2 linked regions of the Homo sapiens genome follow. The protein of the gene in region 1 purifies or fractionates together with the protein of each later gene. This does not show direct contact. Each region holds a gene or a part of one and is shown on either strand. Other genes may lie near its edges.

Evidence for each region.
Region 2: the proteins of MCUR1 (region 1) and NCR3LG1 purify together in Homo sapiens (co-immunoprecipitation; one large-scale study listed by IntAct). This does not show direct contact.

The regions. Positions count from the first base shown.
Region 1 is NC_000006.12:13,797,558-13,801,057, reverse strand, and holds part of MCUR1 (mitochondrial calcium uniporter regulator 1), read left to right. Parts: intron 1-675; coding exon 676-717; intron 718-2,153; coding exon 2,154-2,225; intron 2,226-3,500. UniProt on the Homo sapiens protein: Key regulator of mitochondrial calcium uniporter (MCU) required for calcium entry into mitochondrion. Plays a direct role in uniporter-mediated calcium uptake via a direct interaction with MCU.
Region 2 is NC_000011.10:17,368,800-17,372,299, reverse strand, and holds part of NCR3LG1 (natural cytotoxicity triggering receptor 3 ligand 1 precursor), read right to left. Parts: intron 3,434-3,500; coding exon 3,336-3,433; intron 295-3,335; coding exon 1-294. UniProt on the Homo sapiens protein: Triggers NCR3-dependent natural killer cell activation.

The DNA.
Region 1 (3,500 bases):
ACTAGTTTCGCCTATTCTAGAACCATTTGATGGTATCATACTGTGTGTCTTGTAGCAAGAGATCATTTTTTTCATTGTCTATAGTCTTAACATCAATAGGCCCCATCATTTTATTGTAATGTGTATTAGAATTGTTTCCAGTTTTTGGTTATTTTGAATAATTGCTACTGCGAAATATCTCTTGTGTTTCTTTAAACAGAGCATATGGGATCAGCATTTAAATAAGTGCTGTCTATGCATTTTCCTTTTATTTTCGGTCCTATTTAAAGTCCCATAATAGGGAAGGCCATTTATTGCCTGTTGACCCTAGCCTTGTAAGAAACCTTCTAGCAAAAAGTAAAGTGGTAAAGTTTCAGACTCTCTAGGTTGTTCTTGAAATCAGTTATTTGAGGGTAGGATTAGTTAAAAGATAAACCGAAGGAGATACTAAATAAAGCAGGGTCACTGAAGGCAAATGTGTATGCCAAACACAACTGAGTTAACTTTACATAGCCTTCAAGATGAATTCAAACTGATTTCAAGATACGTGTGTTGTAATGCCATTCTGCAATCAATACGGTGTTCTGAATGAAGGAAAAACCTGAGGAACTTGTGCATAAATATGTATTGTAATATTTGTTGGTTACTACGTTTTATGTTGTTCTTTCTAATGACTTTTTTTTTATGTGTTTTTAGAAAATAAAACTCGAACTACATCAGTTAAAACAACAAGTAATGGTAAGATTCACTTTCCTGTTTGTTGGCTGGTTTGTAATTATATAAACTTATTAATAAGTATAATATTAGAAATGGATGTTTTTAAAAACTTAATTCTTTGTGAAATGTTTGTGTAATATGCCTCAAAAGTACACATTGGAAGATTTAGCTAAGAACACAGCCAATGAATGAATTACTGTTGTCTGTAACCATATTCATTAAGAAAATTGTGGCCAGGCATGGTGGCTCATGCCTGTAATCCCAGCACTTTGGGAGGCCGAGGTGGGTGGATCACCTGAGGTCAGGAGTTCAGACCAGCTTGGCCAACATAGTGAAACCCTGTCTCTACTAAAAATACAAAAATTAAGTGGGCATGGTGGCAGGTGCCTGTAATCCCAGCTACTTGGGAGACTGAGGCAGGAGAATCACTTGAACCCAGGAAGCAGAGGTTGCAGTGAGCCGAGATTGCGCCATTGCACTCCAGCCGTGGTAACAAGAACGAAACTGTCTCAAAAAAAAAAAAAAAAAAAAAAAGAAAATTGTGTTCTAGGAGGAATTAAGTCATTTTTAAGTAAAAGTTTTTCTAAAGTGCTGCACGGAAGGAACCCTTAAATTCTCTTAGACTGTCTTTAGAGAATCACACGTGATTTTTAAATGCTTACTGTGCCAGCTATTTAATGTTTTTTAAATAGAAAAAACATAGATGTTAAAGAAAAAAAGGCTTTGATATGTATCAGAGAAAAGGCTCTATGTAAACTGGATTTTAATATTTTGCTGCTTTGAGTCCATCTTTGCTTTCCAAAGTTGTTTAAGATCAGCTTTATTCATAAGTTCCATTCGGAGATTGTATGAGGAGTCTTGAGGTTAAAAGCAGCAACAGGCCGGGCGCGATGGCTCACGCCAGTACTCCCAGCACTTTGGGAGGCTGAGGTGGGTAGATCACAAGGTCAGGAGTTCAACACCAGCCTGACCAACATGGTGAAACCCCATCTCTACTAAACATACAAAAATTAGCCAGACGTGGTGGCATGCACCTATAATCCCAGCTACTCAGGAGGCTGGTACAGGAGAATTGCTTGAACGCAGGAGGCAGAAGTTGCGTGAGCAGAGATCACCCCATTGCACTCCAGCCTGGTTGACAGAGTGAGACTCCATCTCAAAAAAAAAAAAAAAATGGCAGCAACAACCCACTCTAGACTGGCATAAGCATAGAAGGGGGTTATTTGTGTCTAACTGGGAAGTCCTGGGACAGGCTGCCTCCAGATGTGGCTTGGCCAGAGTTCCCTGATGCCAGGAGGCCTAGGTCCATTTCTCTGGAAGCCCCTGGCTCTCTCCCTCCCTGGGTTGCCTCGCCTAGGATAGGGACAGTGGGGGCAGTGGTCCCAGTGTCACGTCCTCATAGAGTTTGGGTTTCTTACTTTGGATTTTTCCTTCTTTGTTGTTTGCCCTCCTTTTAGGATGAAGTGATCAAAGTCCGAACAGATACCAAATTAGACTTCAACCTAGAAAAGAGCAGAGTAAAAGAATTGGTACGTTCCTTTACTAAAAACACATTATGAATTAATTTATTTTTGGAATGGAATGCTTGGTTAAGCCTAAGTTTATGTACATGTCATAGGTACTGTTAAATATTTATCTGTTTATCAGTGTTAGGCTGTATTTTCTCTATTATAATAATTTTGGATTAAGACTTAAATTTGTTGCTTTCAAAAGTAACATTAAAATTAAACTCCTAGTCAAATTAGTCAGTTTGAATATTTGTTTCAGAAATATTAGAGATATGTTACATAGAGATTCATAAAGAAATTAAATGCAATCTTGATCTATTTAATACTGACTTAAATCTTCATAGGTCTTGATCTTGTAAAAGTTAAGTTGATTATTTCAGGCTTGAATAATAGTAAATTATTAACATTAAATAATATTAAATTATATACTGGAATTCAAGATTAAAACATTTCTGGCCGGGCGCGGTAGCTCACGCCTGTAATCCCACTACTTTGGGAGGCCAAGATGGGCAGATCACCTAAGGTCAGGAGTTCGAGGCAGCGTGCCTGCCCAACATGGTGAAACCCTGTCTGTACTAAAAATACAAAAAATAAGCCGGGCATGGTGGCGGGCACCTGTAATCCCAGCTACTCGGGAGGCTGAGGCAGGAGAATCGCTTGAACCCAGGAGGCAGAGGTTGCAGTGAGCTGAGATTGTGCCACTGCTCTCTAGCCTGGGTGACAAGAGCAAAACTCCATCTCAAAAAAAAAAAGAAAATTTCTATGTTGTCTTTTAAGTGCAGTGAGAAGTTGTGAGGGTATTTTGTTTTGTTTTCTATTTTTGTTTTTTTTGAGACAGAGTCTCAGTGTGTTGCCGAGGCCGGAGTGCAGTGGCACCGTGTCTGCCCACTGCAACCTCCGTCTCCTGGGTTTAAGCAATTCTCCTGCCTCAGCCTCCCGAGTAGCTGGGATTACAGACGCCACCACCACACCTGGCTAGTTTTTATATTTTTAGTAGAGACAGGGTTTCACCATGTTGGCCAGGCTGGTCTCAAACTCCTAACCTCAAGTGATCTGCCCACCTTGTCCTCCTAAAGTGCTGGGATCACTGGAGTGAGCCACTGCGCCTGGCCGGCAAGTGTGTTTTTTTTTTCTTTGTTTTTGTTTGAGGCGGAGTCTCGCTCTGTCACCCAGGCTGGAGTGCAGTGGTGTGATCTCAGCTCACTGCAAGCTTCGCCTCCCGGGTTCACGTCATTCTCCTGCCTCAGCCTCCAGAGTAGCTGGGACTACAGGCCCCTGCCACCACGCCCAGCTAAT
Region 2 (3,500 bases), on another chromosome or scaffold:
TCTACAACACTGACAAAGATCTGGGTTGTCTCGCAAGGCAAAGAAGGCTTGCACATAAGGAACCTCGGACCATTTGCCCTCCTGTCTGCAGAAAACATCTAGTTGTTGAATAGTATTAATATTAACACTTCCCTCAGGAGGCCAAGCCTCCCCATCCTGCAGCTGGTAAGACGGCCATGCCCGAGTGCAAAAGAATATGAGGTGCTCTTTCTTCAGAGTCTGAGTGTCAAAGGAGTTCCAGTGTTTCAGAATGCACTTGAGAGGAGTATAGGCTGAAGATGATTTGTTACATATCTAGAAAAAGAGGAGAGAAAAGGCATCCCTTAGTCTCCTTTGTCCTTCTGGAGTGATCGACAGCAGAGAGAAAAATGGAAGGGGCGTCCCCCTTCTCCTCTTCCCTCCCATTTCCTCAGGTTCCTGGTGACCATTATAGGTGCTGCCCATGGATCAAAGCATGACCTTCACCCATGAATCCGGAGGAGCTAGCTTGTGCTCACCTGCACAAGGTCCTAGCTCTCTGCCCTGCTGGTTTCCTAGACCTACTTGGCCCATAAGGCTCCTGAGATTCCCTAGAACCATGGGAGAGATTGTGCAGTAGTTGGATTGGGGCAAGACCCTTTAAGGAAGGGAACATCTTAACTCTATCCTTACATCCTCTTACTACCACCCTGGCAAAGTTATGAATTCCTAGAGAATGAGACTGATTGATTTCTAAACACAAGATCCCTTTCTCACTTAGATGCCAGTGTAGCTGTGTACAGAACAGATGCCTCAAAAGAATGTAAAAATTGAATGGCTGTTCTCCCTCCAATGGGGATAACACTGAGGCTAAAATATGTCTTCCCAGGGTAGCTTCTTCCTGGCTGTTGAAAGAGGAGTTTTTATGCTTACAAATAGGGCATGGGGCCTGATCACTGAAAGAGGGACATAAGAGAGAAAGGAATCAGGGAACTAGAGGTTTTGGGCAAAGGGCTGACAAGGCTTCTCACAGAGAAAAATCCCATCCCACTAGGTAGCACTATAGGGTTTGAAATGTTAGGAAAAAACTCTGACTACAAATTCTTTCCAAGCAGAGGTCAGAAAGGGAGGTTTGGGGCTTAATAGGCTGTCCCCATAATATGCTGTCCAGTAGAAAAAAAACTAGTTTGTCTCATAGAGGGAATGCTTAAATTCATTGGGCAATGCTGAGCTCTTACATGAAGGAAAAACAACCTGATGGAGAAAAGGGTATTCACTTGGGGTGAAACATCCCCCTATAGAGTGCCATGAATGTCTATCACTGGGGGACAAAAAGGCCCTAAGTGAAAATTTAGGCTGAAATCTTGAAGTCCCCCTGTCTCAAGGAAATCACAAAAACAACAATTATTTGAGTTACATTCCTCGTTACTAAGGCACTTGCTGACTTTGCTTAACAGGATTATCTCCCCAGGCTATAAAGACACCCACAACATTGCATACAAAGAAGGAATAGGAGACATAGTAGCTGCGAAAAGCAAGGAAGAAAATGCAATAGAAAAGTCTGGAAGTCCTGGTGCCAACATTCTGACGGGCTGTCGGGGGCTGGAGTTAGTCCAGGGACCTTCAGGTAACACTGAGGAGTAGCCTCAAACAGAAACCTTCAGTTGCCCCAGGACCTCCTTCTAGCCCATGTGACAGCTAAGTCCTCTGTGAAAGGAAACTGGATTAGAACAGAGCCAACATTCCCAACACCTGAGGGTGAAGGGGGACTGACAAAGTCCTCTCCAGCAAGCCTGTATCTTAAGTCTCATAAGGTTGGCAGCCGCTCTAAAAGCTTTTAACTGGCCCAGTGTTTTGTTCAGTCTTCAGGAAAAAATCTGAGGACAAGAAGCCTCTGAAATGAAAGTAAAGAGTTTGGAGGTCCGCTCCTACTCACCCTTCCAATGTTTCCTGGCCAATGCACCAAAATGTTAGTCTCGTCAATGCACCACAATGTAGCAGTCTCTCATTGCCCAAGGTATCACCTGAAGTTCTTTGTCTCATGACCAAGAAAATTAAGGAGCGCGGACCCCAAAGATGAAGTTGAAGTGAAAGTTTAATAAGCAAAAGAAGAAAGCACTCCACTGCAGAGAGGGGGCCCAAAAGAGGGTTGCCATTTCACAGCTGAATACAAAGGCATAAGGCACACATTTCTGGTAGCTCCACCCCATCCTCGTAGTGTGCATGCAAGCCCTTAGCTTGAGTTACTCCATGTGGCTTTGTTCCCCTTACTGTGCATGTGTCAGGGGATGGAATTTTCTATTGTGAGCATGTCTAGGCAAGTCTCCTGTGTAGCCTTGTTTTAATGTATGTGGCTGTGGGCATGTTTTAGGCAAGCCCCCCTGTACAAGTTCCCTTATCTGCAGTTTGATTTTTCAGGCTGTTCTTTTGTTTGAAGGAATTTGACTGAGGGCCCACCCTAACTGCCTGCCTGACTAGTTTCTTCCTTCCTCCTCTCTCAATAGCACCTGAATATCAGAACCAGAGAAAGGCAAGAAATATGACAACAGTCACAAATACCACAAGAAACATTTGAAAACCACTTTTTATCCAGTTTTCTCATGGCCTAGATCCAACAGGAATAAGTCCCGTGAATCTAAATGGCCAACTTTAGATAAAGGGCCATTTTTCTTAATTGACTGATTATTCCACTTCTCCTAAATTATTTATAATGAGATGTACTGGCTGTTGTGCAGATTTTGCCTTGACAGGCCCATAAATAATTGAGGGCCCTTTTATTATCTAAAACTATTTTAACCAACACATTTACATAGGTCTCTTGGGCCTCTAAAGCTTGAGCTGTTTTATTTACTATTTGGGCCATAGTCAGGGATAAAAATGTTTAGAAACATGTTTTAGTTTAGAAATACCTAGTGAGGGTTAGAAATTCTTAGTCAAACTAGTGAGATCTGGTGGTCAGTTATTGATCAGATAAAATATGAGGAATTCCCCTCTCTAAGCCATAGTTTCTAAATGTGTGAGAAAAACAAGCAGTCCACACATAGTTCAGGGCCTGGTCTGAACACTAAAGTCTGGTTCATTCACAGAGATATAATACTTGTTTAGTATGGAGAAAGAGAGGGAGGCTTTACAACACATCACCCCAGAGTCACAAACCACCATACAGAGGTCAGATGGTATGTGACAGCTAGGTCCTCTGTGATAGGAAACTGGATTGGAACACAGCCAACATTCCCAACACCTGATGGTGAAGAGGGACTGACAAAGTCCTTTCCAGCAGGCCTGTCCCTTGAGGCTTGTAAGGTTGGCAGCAGCTGCTCTAAAAGCTTTTTACTAGCCCAAGACACAGGGCTGAACTTTGCTTTGGAGCCCCTTACCTTTTTCCAAGGAATCAAAACAATTAATAAAACCAGTCCAACACCAATGAATGAAATAGGCCACCAATGAATGGAAAAATTATCTGTCTTCTCAGTTTCTGCAGAGAGAGAAGGAAAACATTAGCAGGAAACCTACTGGCAAGGGCCAGAGAAACCACACAACTG